Regions from separate parts of the Homo sapiens genome. Here region 2 is linked to region 1. Evidence: fine-mapped expression QTL. Tissue or cell type: whole blood. Region 1 holds a variant in brackets; the other region holds the start of a gene. All regions are shown on one strand. Distances are from middle to middle.

What was found. PIP is the estimated chance that this variant, and not a neighbour inherited with it, causes the effect.
Region 2: KIF27 starts here. The variant in region 1 is fine-mapped to the expression of KIF27 in whole blood (TOPMed, PIP above 0.99).

Annotation. Positions count from the first base shown.
Region 1 is chr9:83,885,565-83,893,564 of GRCh38, reverse strand. It overlaps KIF27 (kinesin family member 27), which reads left to right. Exons shown (of 18, transcript NM_017576.4): 6 at 2,064-2,270; 7 at 4,312-4,481; 8 at 4,973-5,076; 9 at 6,369-6,524. Among named protein-coding and RNA genes, the nearest start is that of KIF27, 32 kb to the left of the region's middle. The variant G/A (reference allele first, on the strand shown) is at 4,296.
Region 2 is chr9:83,917,712-83,925,988 of GRCh38, reverse strand. It overlaps KIF27 (kinesin family member 27), which reads left to right and starts at 4,557. Exons shown (of 18, transcript NM_017576.4): 1 at 4,557-4,618. It overlaps LOC105376335 (serine/arginine repetitive matrix protein 1-like), which reads right to left and starts at 5,088. Exons shown (of 3, transcript XM_011519284.2): 1 at 4,728-5,088; 2 at 4,291-4,635; 3 at 1,104-1,323. The coding sequence starts at 5,088. The coding sequence ends at 1,187. RefSeq lists enhancers at 3,157-3,661, 4,276-5,025 and silencers at 4,395-4,544, 4,575-4,954.

The DNA.
Region 1 (8,000 bases):
TCATTGTGACTTTTTTTTTGACTTGTGAATAACATAGTTATTTTATTTACAGGACATGGGGGATTTATTTTTCTTTAATCAATTTTTATTGCATTGTGATCAGATAACATACTATCTCTGATTTCAGTCCTTTGAATGTATTGAAACTTGCTTTTTGGCTCAGAATAAGGCAAATGTTTGTAAATGTTACAGAGGTACTTGAGAAGAATATGCATTCTGCAGTCATTGGGCACTGTTAATCCTATTATTCAAATCTACATTTTTTACTCACCTTTGAAGTCTTTTTGTTATATCAGTAATTTATAAAGTGATGTTAAAATCTCCCACTATGACAGACCTCAACTCTGTCACCCAGGCTGGGGCACAGTGGCACGATCATGAGTCACTGTAGCCTCGACCTCCTGGGCTCAAGCAGTCCTCCCACTTCAGCCTCCTGAGTAGCTGGGACCACAGGTGCACACCACAATGCCCTGCTAATTCTTGTATTTTTTGTAGAGAAGGGGTTCTTCACCATGTTGTCCAGGCTGCTCTCAAACTCTTGGGCTCAAGTGATCTACTGGCCTTGGCTTCCCAGCGTGCTGGGATTACAGGTGTGAGCCACTGTGCCCAGCCCTACTATAATTTTGGATTTGTCTTATTTCTCCCTGAAGTGCTGATAGTTTTTGCACTACAAATATTGAAGCTGTGTTATTAAGTGGACACAAATGTAGAATTGTTATACCATCCTGGTGAATTGCTCTTTTAATCATTTTTACCTCTTCTTATCTAATGAGTTTTGCCTTAAAGCTTACCTTGACATTACTATAGCTACACCAGCTTTCTTTTGATTAATATTTACATGGTATCTCTTTTTCTATCTTATTTTTAATCTTTCTGTGTCTATTTTAGATATGTTTCTTGTAAGCAGCATATGGTTAGATAATCTTAAAATCCTTTCTGATAGTCTTTATCTTTTAATTTCATTATTCATTCATTAATTTAACATAATTACTGTTTTGGTAAAAATCCACCATTGTGCCTTTTATTTATCCTTCCTCCTCTGTGTTCCTTTTTCCCTCTTTTGGATCATTGGTTATTTTTTCTTTTTCTGTTGTTTTCTCCACTAACTTAGAAGTTATAGTTTTACTCTTTTTTTAGTGGTTATCCTAGAGAGTATACCATGCACCCTAATATTAATTGGTACTTTTATCCTTTTCCCAGGCAATGTAAGAACTCCATTGAATCCTTTGATGTTGTATATTTTAATTATCTGAATACGTGATTTTTAAGTAAGGTTGCATTTTTATTGCTCAGCATTTATACAATGAAAATGTAAGGTTTTTTTTCCTATTTCAACATTGTAGTACATGTGAAGTATTAAGATGAATGACTGTTTCTTATTTACATAAATTTGTGCTTGTAAAACAAAGATTGACATTAGAGCTTTCTAGATTTGATACACTTCAAAAATTTTCTTTAGAGGATACACAAAAAATACTAAACCACATATACACAAACACACACACACATTCCTGATACACAATTTGTTCTGCCTTTGATTTCCAAGTTCTCCTTCCTCTCAGGACTATCAGTTGGCTATCTTCTATCTGTCTGCTTTTGGCTTCCTTTTTCACTAAGGCTTTCACTTCCCTGCACTTGTTACCTCCTTCTGCCTCCTTTGCTGCAAACTCTGCTGCCTACAATTCTTTCTCCACTTTTTGAACTTTCTTGTTTCTTTTTACTTCTTGGATTTCACTCAGAAAGTCCATACTTTAATAAAGATAGCTAATCAAAGTGCTTCAGGTTGGCAAAGCATCCAGTCACAGTGGATGGCGTGTTATCTTTGAGTATTTGACTTTTGACTTTTTTGGCTGTGTTTGTTGCTCCTTACTATTAAAAAGGTTTTACCACTCAGAACAATGTTAGTTACTTGTGAACACCAGAGAGCTAGTCTCTGGATAAATGAGAATTGACTGTATTATTAAAGTAGTTATGATTTTGGTCAATGTAAAATTCATTTTTAATCATAATCTAAATGTACTGAAGTGCTCTATATTAAAAATTTTCATCTCTCTTCTACAAAGAATGAAAAAATAATAGAACAACAACTTCTTGTGGATCAACTGAGTGAAGAACTAACAAAACTTAACCTGTCAGTGACTTCTTCAGCTAAAGAAAATTGTGGAGATGGGCCAGATGCCAGGATCCCTGAAAGGAGACCATATACTGTACCATTTGATACTCATTTGGGGCATTATATTTATATCCCATCAAGACAAGATTCCAGGAAGGTAAAGTCCAAACAATCTTTTCCTTATTTGGAGATTAAAAAAATTTTAGCCATGTGTAATATCACAGTGTATTTATACAGTCTCAGCAGATTTTTTTTGTTTGATTTTATGGAATTTTGTGTATACCTTTTCTTTTAAGCATACTTCTTTCTAATAAAAAAACTAATAAACAAGAGAATACACAGTTACATTTGGAGGGAATAGTTGGATGGAGATAATGTCCATACTTCTTCAATGTGAAAAAGGTATCCTTTGCCATATTTTCAGACATGACCAAGTTTAATATCTACATGAATTTATTTCTTCCTTTAACCACACAAAGTTGAGATGTTAGAGGATATTTATTTCAACTTGTTTGGTCTGTCATTTTTGAAATAATATTTATATGCTGTTCAGTCTTACCAAGTAGACATAATCAAGACAATATAAATATCAATATAAATTTTAGTTTGTGTGTGGTTGGTAAATATATACACACACAGTTTTAAGAATTATCAAAGAATCTCTATTATGGAAAAGACGTAATTAGCAGATTCATGAGTTTTGGTTTAGCAGGTTCATGAATTCTGGTTTCTGTTTCCTCATTTTATGAAGGGAAATGATTTGTTCACGTGAGATCCATCTGGTTGTTACAGTCAGAGGGATAAGAAATGAAAGGCAAGTGATACATGAGCAGTGTCATGGACTTTGCATCAGGCAGCCTTGGGTGGTATGAATACTATAATAGCTCTGGACATTTGGTTTTCTTTGTAAAAAGAAATTTTAAAAGGAAATTACAATCCCAGAGAATGAAGTTGGACTCTGAACAAAGATTTTATTATTTGCTCCTTAAATAATTCCCAAACTCTCACAAAAGAAAACTAGATGCCTGCCAGTTATGGGATAAAATAGCCATGTCTAGTACGTTGTATTTGTTAGATCAGTACTTCTTGAGTTGGTTCTTCTTAAAGAATTCCCCTCCCTCATACCCCATTGGGAGGCCACCTAAAAAACTTTACGCCCATCTATCATGATGCTGATGTGACAGATGATCTAATTAGGTGACTGACAGCAGAAGCACAAAAATCAGATATAAGATGATTTTCAGAATCAGGTAGGATTTTTTAGGAGAGAATACATGACGGGGGCCTATTGTCAAGTGATTAAATCCTAAACACTGTGTGATACTCATATTCCACTATATGTTATAATTTTAACAGCTTATAATAATTTATATTGATAAATGGACTGTCTCCTCTAAGATTTTATTGCCTTTTGAGAGAAGTCATCTTGAGATTTGGTTACAGAGATGGTGCAGAGGAAATATTTTGTAATAGAAACCAGAACAAAGGTATAAAGGCAATTTCTAATTTATTGTTGTTGTTTTCCAAGGTCATTTTTTTTTGAGAATTTAAAGTGCATTTCCAATAGAAGAATGTTGTACTATAGAAAACTCCCAGGCTAGCCATACGATTTTATTTGTCCTATGACATATATTAAATATTTTTCCTAGAGCCTTAATTCAGCTATACCTAACTACCATGTATAAAGAATAAGTATATACATTGTGGTATTCAGATTAGGAATATTGCCCTGGCAGAGGGAGTGGAGACGGCTCTGGGTTTCTTCCTGTGGTAGGATTTGGATTGGAGGGGATGCAGACCTTTGGCGGCAGCACCACAGTTCTCCAGGTGTTCTGAACTGGGAAGATGGGGAAGAGGGTACATTTGTTGGGGTGTGTCTGTGTTGTGTTTAAGAGCTAGGATGTTTTCCATGCGTTCTTTTGGTTTCATTTTTGAATACTGTTTTCTGTAAGTGAAGATAGAAGAGTTGTCCAGAAGAGAAGGAGCTGTGTGGATTCTGAAAGAAGTATTTGTCTGTGAGGCACAACAGTATTGTTAAATTAATTTTGACCTTTGTTTGAGGGGAGCATTTTCCAGTGATTGGCTATTTTAAGAGTGCCAATCTAATAACCCCTTTAAAAGCACTTAGAGTAATAGGATAAAATTAGACTTTTAAAATATCACTTTTTTTGTTGTTGGGTGG[G/A]GGAATCACTTGCAAGGTCCACACAAGTCCGCCTATGTACTCTCTGGATCGAATATTTGCTGGATTTCGAACACGAAGTCAGATGCTGTTGGGTCACATAGAAGAACAAGATAAGGTCCTCCACTGCCAATTTTCTGATAACAGTGATGATGAAGAATCAGAAGGCCAAGAGAAATCTGGAACTAGGTATGTTAAATATACACTGATTTAATAAATATTTAGAATTATATGCTGCAATAAATATAGAAGTGTAGGTTTTTTCCATTGGAGTATATCTTTTATGTTTAATAGAAGAGTAGGTAACTTTTGCTAAAAGTACTATCATCTAATGTGTTATGAAAATAGTATTTGAACACAAGTCATCAGTCTTATAACTGAAAAATAATTTTGCTTTTAGAGCTTTTATAGTAATGAGATTCTAATTTTCAGAGGTTTTTTTTTTTTTTTTTTTTTGGATTTCCTTATTCTGCTGCCACGTTGGCAACAAACATGACTTTTCTACTGGATTCAACATGGATGGGGGGGGCATCCTTTTATTTTGAGCAATATTAGTAACATTCTGTTTTTATATGTAACTAATAATTTTTTTAACATTACTTTCACTTTTCGGGGAAACTAATTTGAGGGCAGATTAGAAAACACGAACAAATAAGTTAACTTTCTGATTTTTTTTTAAGATGTAGAAGTCGTTCATGGATTCAGAAGCCAGACTCTGTTTGTTCCCTTGTTGAATTGAGTGATACTCAGGATGAAACACAAAAGTCAGATTTGGAGAATGAAGGTACATAGATCTTCTTAAATAATGTAGACCTAATGGTTATAGGACACTTATCTTTTTCCTCAGTTGATAATTTAAGAAACATCCAGGAATTCTCAAAGACCAGAATTTGGTACAAATGCTTTCCTAGTTGGTAGAACTTCTTTTATGTTCTCTGTTTTACCTCTTTTACTCTTTTACTCCTTAATAAAAAAAGATTTTCTATCAATTAATTATAGCGAGAGATATAGGCTAACTCCCTCAGAATAAGGATTTTTATATTCAGACCTGAATTGATATGCTTTGTATTCCTGATGATGTTAAAATACAGTATAAATAATTGTACTAGGTGTCTACTCCTTCACTGGGACTTGTGCCTAACATCAATGATGTATTTGGCATTAGAGCCCAATTAGTGTACTGGGTGTTGGTAATGTTTTAGTACACAACTGCTAAGAATTTTTATGCATCAATAAGTGCTGGGATTACAGGCATGAGCCACTGTGCCCAGCCGGTAGTAGGAGATTTTGTTAACTCATCTCTCTTGGTCAATGCGTGGTTGACCCACAAAAAATAAGGGAATAGGGATAATACAAGTGCTACACTTTGAAAATATAGAGCATCTCTTTAAGAACCTATACGTGGCTTTATGAGCCAAAAATTTAAGTATAACTAAAATAAATTTCAAAATGTGGAAATAATAAAGGTAAATGCTACTCAAGCAGCCATGCTTGAGCTGTTTGTTACTGCTCTGCAACCAGGAAAAAAACTTACGTCGGAATGTAAATGAGCTTACACTAGTTCCTTCCTTGAGAAAGTCTGGCTATGAAAAAAATGTCACCTGAACTAAAGCAGTGTGCTTAGTGACATAGTTGATTTACATTCTGGTGCAGGACAGTAACAAACAGTGCTAGACCACACTCTGAGTAGCCTGGTATAGTCTGCATTCTCCAATTACAGTAAAAGTAGAAGTTGATAGGAAACAAATTCACCCCTCTCTCCATCTGGAAATTTTATACCTATCTCAAATAACTCATGTTAAAGGCAATGAAAAACTGTGTGTCTGAACTTATGGGATATTAAGAAAGAATATATACATACATGTATTAATTTGTAAGAAAATAAAAACTCTTACTGTAAGCTGGAATGCTAGAGTCCCAATTGCTGTGTATTTTTTCCCCTTTTTCCTCCCCTTCCTTTTTGTCTCTTCCACTGCCACCTCTAAATTGCTTTTGAGTCTGCTTTTCTTTTTTTAACTCTACTTCTGTTGAATATTTTACCAGCAGATAGTTTTATTTCTCCATTTTTTTTTAAAGATTTAAAGATTGATTGTCTCCAGGAGAGTCAAGAATTGAATTTGCAAAAATTAAAGAATTCAGAACGCATACTTACTGAAGCTAAACAAAAAATGAGAGAACTTACAATTAACATCAAGATGAAGGAAGATCTGATTAAAGAATTAATAAAAACAGGTAATAGTATCTTGTGAACCAGCTTAAATGAGAAAGAAAACTTCTTAAAATTGCTTCTGATGTGGTAACAGTTACTTTAGTTTTTGAAGCTCAGGTCTATCCACTTAGCTTGGATTGGTGTAACAAGGTGAGTTTTTAGGCCAATATGTGGAGGTTAGTTATCAGAAGAATTTTGTTGTTTTGGGATTTCACCTCTGAATTGTTCTAACTGGTGTGAACTCTGCATTGTGCTGAAATTCTGTGGCACTTAATGTACCAGTTACAACATGTTTATTTTATTTTTTTGAAACAGGGTCTCACTCTGTCACCTAGGCTGGAGTGCAGTGGTGCAGTCATGACTCACTGCAGCCTTGACCTCTGGGGCTCAACCAATCCTCCTACCTCAGCCTCCCAAGTAGCTGGGACTACAGGCGTGTGCCACCATGCCCAGTATGCGTCAGTAGTTTTTATAATTTTTTTTTGACAGTGTATTAGAATTGATAAAATATAGTATAGATATTTTATCTATAAAATAGATAAAATATAGTCCTGTTATTATTAGTTGGCAGAAGCAGCTGCTATTCAAGAGAAGTCTTCAGTGAGAGGGCATTGAAAAGTAAGCACTCACTGACAACTTTTGTTAGTCACCATCTCTGAGGATTTTTAGGAAAGCTCCAAATTGCCCTTGGTTCTAATGAGCAAGAAAAGGGTCTTCTCTGTATAAGCTCTGGTATCCTCTATTTTAAAACAACCACGTTGGGTATACCAGGCTACAAACACATGCTTGTTTAATGAGATCCATAGTAAGATAACCTTTCTGAAAGAAAGTCATTGATTCTATTGGGTAAATATCCTCAACTTCCACAGGCAGTACCCTGAAATCTTGGGAATGGAGAAACCATTCTAGATCAGCTCCTAGATACTCCTAAGAGGGGTCAACTGGTGTTTGATCCTGCCTGTGGGGAAGCAGCATGGCCAAACTCATTTAAACATCTGCATAACTGGAGCTAGGATGATGCATAGCACATATGTCACTAGGAATGAGAAAGGAAAAAGCTTTGGGAAAGTAGCTAAGCAGAGGATGCTTCTTAAAAAATGTCAAAAAAAAAAAACAACACAAAAAACTTAATGCCCTTAATGCTCTCTCACTGAAGACTTTTCTTGAATAGCAGCTACTTCTGCCAACTAATAATAACAGGACATCTATACTATATTTTATCAATTCTAATACACTGCAAAAAAAATTTATAAAAACTACTGATGCGTACTGGGCATGGTGACACACGCCTGTAGTCCCAGCTACTTGGAAGGCTGAGGTAGGAGGACTGATTCAGCCCCAGAGGTCAAGGCTGCAGTGAGTCATGATTGCACCACTGCATTCCAGCCTAGGTGACAGAGCAAGACCGTCTCAAAAAAATAAAATAAACATGTTGTAATTGGCACTGTATATTTTTTTAGTGGTTCATAAAATATTGGTGTGTTGAACAATTAATGAAT
Region 2 (8,277 bases), 32 kb before region 1:
CACACCCAGCTAATTTTTGTATTTTTATTTTTATTATTTTATTTATTTTTTTTTGAGACGGACTCTCGCTCTGTTTCCCAGGCTGGAGTGCAGTGGCATGATTTTGGCTCACTGCAACCTCTGCCTCCCGGTTTCAAGTGATTCTTCTGCCTCAGCCTCCCGAGTAGCTGGGACTACAGGCACGCACCACCACACCCGGCTAATTTTTGTATTTTTAGTAGAGAGGGGTTTCACCATGTTGGCCAGGCTGGTCTCGAACTCCTGACCTCAAGTGATCCACCTGCCTTGGCCTCCCAAAGTGCTGGGATTACAGGCATGAGCCACTGTGCCTGGCCTTGTTTTCATTTATACACATACCTGTGTATTGAGTCATGATGTCAAGGGAATTTCTGATAGTGGCTCAGTATCAATCAAATTCGAAAGCCAGTGTCCTGGGCTTGCTTTTCAGATTGGGGTGATGGATTATTTCCTAGTCTTCCAAGGTTCCCCTCATGATTGGTGGAGATTGTGGTTGCCCAATTTGACCATAGGGCCAAGCAAATCCACCTGGCACCAGTTGACAGGACCCAAGCAGTATGTTTCCTTAGGAAAGCTAACATTCTCTGCACTAAGTTAAGGAGCCAAAGGCAAAATGATGGCACAGAAACCACCCCTCCCCCTTTTTTTTTCTCAGACGGAGTCTCACTCTGTCACCCAGGCTGGAGTGCAATGGCATGGTCTCGGGTCACTGCAATCTCCGCCTCCTGGGTTCAAGCGATTCTCCCACCTCAGCCTCCTGAGTAGCTGGGACTACAGGGCCATGCCACCATGCCCGGCTAATTTTTGTATTTTTAGCAGAGACGGGGTTTCACTATGTTGGCCAGGCTGGTCTCGAACTCCTGACCTCATGATCCGCCCGCCTCAGCCTCCCAAAGTGCTGGGATTACAGGCGTGCACCACCGCCCACCCCCATTTTTAAAGAAACCCCATTTTTAAAGTATAAAGCTTCTTTTCTCCCCGCCAGAGAAATTAAGGGAATTCATCAAACATTATAGCAACATTAAAAGAATTTAAAGTGGGAGAAGAGGTATGATCTGTGGTTTCCTTAATACTTCCTTTAATACTTCCTTTCTTTCCTGGATCCAGCTTTTCTCAAAATATGGGTGAGGGAAGATGATTTAGGCGAAAAGGGCACATATTTCTTTATTTAATTTGGTCTAGCTGTAATCTTCTGTTTGTTACTGCTTTTCTGGTAAAGTGGACTGGGCATGGATGTTTTTCTCTGTAGGACAAGCAGCCCAAAGCTGGTCTCCCATGGGACATATGCAGAGTTCTTCAGTGGACCTGAAAGATACAGTTCCCTTAAGGAGAAGACCTAGTTCCCTTAAGAAGATCCAGCACTGGCTCAATTACTTCTGCTAATCCCAAGCCCAGCTCCTCCCACTGCCTCTTACTGATGGGGACTTATCTGCAGGAGACAGTCCTCAAGACAATCTTCATGGGGCTCAAGCTTGGGTACCCTCCAAAGGATCCCCTGGACCATGAGCAAATCACAGCTTCTCCCCCTGCTAAACTGCAGGAACACAGACTGCTCTACTACAGCAACATCTCAGTTGCTTCGCTCCATTCTTGAGAAGAAGATCAGCTCACTTCTTCCCCTAGTTGCTCCCACCAGAAGGCCAGGTTTCCTCTTCTAGCACATCACACAGGGTTTGCCCGTCACTCTTAGAGCCTCCTTTGACTTAGGTGGGAGGCCTCTTACTCTCCAACCCACAAGGCCCAAGACCCCTTGACTCCACTGCCGAGTCTTTCTTACAGATACTTAAAAAAGAGATAGGATTGGAATTTGAATGGAATTAGCTTAGTCCTGCTATAAATCCTAGGGAGGAGGGGTTGGCAATGACTGGCATTCACTTCACAGTGTGGGGAACTTAAGTAACTCCTTTTCTCTAACTCTGGACTCAAGACATCAATTTGGGGACAATGGAAAATGCCCCATTCTAATGCTGTTGGGCATTTGCTGACCTCCTCTCTGCAATTGTGTGGCCTCTTGAGAACTTCTGTTGAGACTTCTGGGTATTCCTAGACTTAAATTGTTACGTACTATTAATTATTGAAGTTTTGTCAGCAGACCAGTCTGACTTACCAATTCACAGTCATGATGTGAGTTTTTGTTTGTTTTCAAAGAGTTCTAAAAATGCAACTTGGCCCTATAGTCAAATTGGGCAACCACAATCTCCACCAATCATGAGGGGAACCTTGGAAGACTAGGAAATAATCCATCACCCCAATCTGAAAAGCAAGCCCAGGACACTGGCTTTCGCATTTGATTGATACTGAGCCACTATCAGACATTCCCTTGACATCATGACTCAATACACAGGTATGTGTATAAATGAAATCTTAGAATTTTAAAAATTATGTATTATTTATTATTTTTTTGAGGTAGAGTCTCATTCTGTCACCCAGGCTGCAATGCCATGGTGCAACAACAGCTCACTGCAGCCTTGACCTCCCAGGCTCAAACCATTCTCTCACCTCCACCTCCAGAGTAACTGGAACTGCAGGCATACTCAGCCACACCTGGCTAAGTTTTGATTTTTTGTAGGGATGGGGGGTCTCATTATGTTGCCCAGGCTGGTCTCAAACTCCTGGGCTCAAGTGACCCTCCCAGTTCAGCCTCCCAAAGTGCTGAGATTACAGGTGTGAGCCACTGTGCCCAGACTGAATTTTTAAAATTTTAAATAATTCAGTTAAAAGAAAAAAAAATAAAAACTATAAATAAAATAGTCAGCTTTTTTCCCCCACCTTCATTCCTATATTTCATGAGAGAAGGAAGGGTTTTTGAAGATGCTTAGATTGTGCTACTAAAAACAGGAGGCATTAAAGCATTTAAAACTAAATTGGTAAAGTTAAATATTACCATACGACCCAGCAATTCCACTCTTACGTCCATACCTAAAAGACCTGAAAACAGGCTCGGCGCGGTGGCTCACGCCTATAATCCCAGCACTTTGGGAGGCCAAGGTGGGCGGATCACCTGAGGTCGGGAGTTCGAGCCCAGCCTGACCAACATGGTGAAACCCCGTCTCTACTAAAAATACAGAAAACTTAGCCAGGCGTGGTGGTGGCACATGCCTGTAATCCCAGCTACTCCAGAGGCTGAGGCAGGAGAATTGCTTGAACCCATGAGGCGGAGCTTGCAGTGAGTTGAGATAGCGCCACTGCACTCCAGCCTGGGCAACAGAGCGAGACTCCATCTCAAAAAAAAAAAAGGAACTGAAAACAGACATCCAAATATTGTATGTGAATGTCCATAGCAGCATGGAAACAGCCCAAATGTCCACCACCAGCTGAAGAATGGATAAACAAAATGTGGTATGTCTATATCCATACAATGGAATTTTTTCAGCCCTAAAAAGTCCTGATAGGGCCGGGCAGGGTGGCTCATGCCTGTAATCCCAGCTACTCCGGAGGCTGAGGCAGGAGAATCGCTTGAACCCATGAGGTGGAGGTTGCGTTGAGCCTAGATGGCGCCATTGCATTCCAGCCTGGGCAATAAGAGCGAAACTCCATCTAAAGGGCCGGGCGTGGTGGCTCACGCCTGTAATCCCAGCACTTTGGAAGGCCGAGGCGGGCAGATCACGAGGTCAGGAGATCAAGACCATCCTGGCTAACACAGTGAAACAAACCCCGTCTCTACTAAAAATACAAAAAATTAGCCGGGCGTGGTGGCACGCGCCTGTAATCCCAGCTACTCGGGAGGCTAAGGCAGGAGAATCGCTTGAACCCGGGAGGTGGAGGTTGCAGAGAGCCGAGATCACGCCACTGCACTCCAGCTTGGGCGACAGAGCGCGACTCGGTCTCAAAAAAAAGAAAAGAAAAAAAAGAAAAGAAGTCCTGATAGATGTTACAACATGACTGCATCTTGAAAACATTAAGCAAAAGAAGCTAGACACAAAAGGTCATATACTGAATGATTCCATCAATAAAGAAATGCCCAGAATAGGTAAAGCTATCACAGAGTCAGAAAGTAGATTAGTGGCTGGCTGGGGTTGTGGGGAGAGGGGAACCAGAAGGAATGACTGCTAACTGGTTTGGGGATTTTCTTTTGGGGTTATGAAAATGTTTCTGAACTATATACAGAGGTGATGGTTGCACAACACTGTGAATGCATTAAACGCCACTGAATTGTGAGTTTTAAGATGGTTTATGTTAGGCAAGTTTTACTCAATAAAAATAAAAATAAACTGAATTGGTAGCTAAGATATTGAAACACGGTGTGGAATCGTTCTCACTCATTTCACGAACCCGTAGAAAGATGCTTGCGCTCAGGCCTCACAGACCGGTCCCAGCGCGTTGGTGGGACACAACTCGGATTTGCAGGCAAGCCCAGGGGCCGGCCCTTTGCGGACTTCCTGGGGACGCAGGACTCCTGCGCGGCGGGCTTGGAGGCGTGGCCAGGATGGGGGCGGGGCCAGGACGCGGCATCCAGGAGAGGACGCGGCGGGAGGCGGGCTTCGCCGGTTGCCAGGAGAACTCGCGACAACAAAAGACGCGGACGGCGGCTGCGCGGTGTGGCAGAGCGAAGCTGAGGAGTCCAGCGCTCGCCGACAGGGGCCTGGGCTGTCCCGAGCCGGTCAGTGCTCGGCGGGCCTGGCGGGCGGTGCGGGGAAGTGGGGCGCCCTCCCTTCGCGGTGCCCGCCCTCCAGCCCGCCGCGCCCGCCGCTCCCGCGCCCCCAGCCGGCCGTTGGGACTAGTAGGCTCCGGCTTGGGGTCGGGGCCGCCGCGGGTGGGTAGCGGAGGGTGGGCGGTTGGGGCGCCAGCTAGGCCTATGGGGGCGTCCGAGGGGTCTGGGGTCGGGGCTGGGAGCCGGCGAGCGACTAGAGGCAGAGCGCCCCTTCCGGAGGAAGTTGGGTCAGCCCTGAGGAGCGGGTCCCGGGGAACACCGATCGACCGGAACGCGGGACCCGGCCTTTCAGAGCGCACCCTGTGTTCGTCTCGTGTCGCTGCACGGCGTGAGGTGCGACGCGAGGGCCACCACCACCGAGCGCTTTGTTTTATCGCAGGCGTCTTTTTCCCACCGTAGAGGTTGAAACTTGGGCGCATTTCCCACCGTAGAGGTTGAAACTTGGGCGCATTTCCCACCGTAGAGGTTGAAACTTGGGCGCATTTCCTACCGTAGAGGTTGAACCTTGGGCACATTCAAGCCCGAGAGCTCCCTCCCTCGGAGGCAGGTGACTATAAAGAGCAAAGCGCCCAGATTCTTTCTTTGAAACACCTTTTAAGTAACACCTTTTAAGTCTCCAGTGTTGAAAATCCTTGTTGTTTGCCCTTCTTTACTCTTTTGTCGTCTTTACGCATTTGGGGCCTTTTCTGAGCTCCGTATGCGATTTACTGTCCATCTACTGGCAAGTTTTTTATGAAAATAATTAACAAACCACACATTTAAGACAACCACTGCTTTCTGGGAAATCAAGGGTACGGGATGGCAACGGTTTTTGGAGACACTCATTCCTGACCAGTGACATGACATGAGGGATTCAATATTTCTCTTGCCTTTGCTCAGATTTCAAAAACCCGTTGAGTATACTTAAATACGACCAATCAGATTTTGCTTTTTTTTAAATCATTTATTGGCAACATAATACGTATGTTTCTGATGACTATAATTGATCAGAATCTGAAGTATAAGTGCTATGGATTGTGTAAAAACTTTATTTCTTGTATATTGATGTTTTACAAGCCCTATGTTTGTGGACCATTACTATTGTTTGTTTGTTTTGTTTTGAGACAGGGTCTCGCTCTGTTACTCAGGCTGGAGTGCAGTGGCACACTGCAGCCTCAACCTCCCGGGCTCAAGCGATCCTCCAATCTCAGCCTCCCAAGTAGCTGGGACTACAGGTGCGTCACCACAGCCTGGCACATTCTTGTATTTTTAGTAGAGACAGGGTTTCACCATGTTGCCCAGGCTGGTCTGGAACTCGTGGGCTGAAGCGATCCACCTGCCTTGGCCTCCCAAAGTGCTGGGATTACAGGTGTGAACCACTGTGCCCGGCCCCATTATTATTTTTTTTAATGCTTAGAATAAGTTTCAGTTGCCTTTATAACCAAATTCTTTATAGATATTACCATTAAAAACCCCAAGAAATGAGGCTGGGCATCGTGGCTCACATTTGTTTTGTTTTGTTTTCAGGAGGGATCCTCTCGCTTCAGCCTTCTGAGTAGCTGGGATTACAGGCGCACGCCACCATGCCTGCCTAATTTTTGTATTTTTAGTAGAGACAGGGTTTCTCCATGTTGCCCAGGCTGGTCTCGAACTCCTGGGCTCAAGTGATCCACCCGCCCTGGCCTCCCAAAGTGCTGGGATTACAGATGTGAACCACCGTGCTGGGCCATGGTTTTTTTTTTTTCAAGGGTAGTGAATATTATCAATTCATTGTTGTTAGTGTTATTAATAAAATATTATTTCAGTCTAGTTGTCTGTGTTACTTAATGGTAATCTTCAAGACTCAGCAGCTTTTCCAAAGAACCTAACCTCACCTCAAATTCATTACTTTTCATCATCTGCACTCAAACATTGTCATAGATTACTTGTTAAATTTTGTATAAGCTTTATCCTTCCAAAACTGAACATTTGTATGTAAGTTTTTATGCGAACACAATGTTTTCATTTCTCTTGGGAGTGGAATTGCTGGATCATTTGATGGAGTGGAATTGCTGGGTCAAGAGATAACTGTATGTTTAACTTTTTGCAGAAATGTCAGTCTGTTTTCCAAAGTGGCTATACCATTTTACCTTCCCACAAATAGTGTATGAGGGTTCTAATTTCTTTATACCCTGCCAACACTTATGATCTGTCTTTTTTATTATAGCAGTGCTAGTGGATGTGGATTGGTATCTCATTGTGGTTGTTGTTTGTTTGTTTGTTTGTTTGAGACAGTCTTGGTGTATCGCCCAGGATGGAGTGCAGTGGTTCGATCTCAGCTCACTGCAACCTCTGCCTCCTGGGTTCAAGCGATTCTCCTGCCTCAGCTTCCCTAGTAGCTGGGATTATAGGCGCCCACCACCATGCCCGTCTAATTTTTGTATTTTTAGTAAGGACGGGGTTTCACCATGTTGTTCAGGCTGGTCTCGAACTCCTGACCTCAGGTGATCCTCCCACCTCGGCCTCCCAAAATGCTGGGATTACAGGTTTGAGCCACTGCGCCTGGCTAATTTTTGTATTTTAGGTAGCAATGGGGTTACACCATGTTGTCCAGGCTGGTCTTGAACTCCTGACCTCAGGTCATCCTCCCACCTCAGTCTCCTAAAATTCTGGGATTACAGGCATGAACCACTGTGCACCTGGCCTCTCATTGTGATTTTGATTGCATTTTCCTGATAGCTAATGATGGTGAGCATCTTTTCATGTGCTCATTATTCATTTGTATATCTTCTTTGAAGAACTGCCTTTTCGGATGCTTTGCCTATTTAAAATTTTTAAAAAACTTTTTGAGTTATAATATTTATATATTCTAGTTGCAAGTTCCTTGTTAGATATATGTCTTGCAAATATTTTCTCCCATTCAGTGAGTTGTCTTTTCACTTTCTTGGTAGTTTCCTTCGAGGCACAAAGTTTTTAATTTTGATGTCGTTTTTCCTTCCCTCCCTCCCTCCTCTCCCTCCCTGTCCTGCCCCCCCCCCATTTCTCTCGTTCTCTCTTTCTCTCTCTCTTTGAGACAAGTTCTTGCTCTGCTGTCCACATTATAGTGTTGTCCACGTTATAGTGCAGTGGTGCAGATACAGCTCACTGTAACCTCTGGCTGCTGGGTTCAAGCCAATCTCCCGCCTTAGCTTCCCAAGTAGCTGAGACCACAGGTGCGTACTACCATGCTGAGCTGATTGAAAAAAAAAATTTCTTTGTAGACATGGCGTCTCACTATATTGCCCAGGCTGGGTCTTACTTATTTTTTAATCTATACTTCATCTTTATTTTTTGCTTTTATTATTATTTTTGTTTGACAAAATCATTGTACATATTTATGGGGTACAGTGTGATTTTTCAGTACATGTATACAATGTATAATGTTCAAATTGGTATTTTTTATTTTATTGCTTTTGGTGTCATATCTGAGAAATTATTGCCAAATCCAAGGTCATAAAGAGTTACTCCTGTCTTTTAAGAGTTTTGTAGTTTTACTTCTTATGTTTAGGTCTATGGTCCATTTTTGGTTAACTTTTGTATATGATATGAGGTAGGGAGTCCAACTTCATTATTTTATCCATTGTCCCAGTGCCATTTGTTGAAAAGAGTAT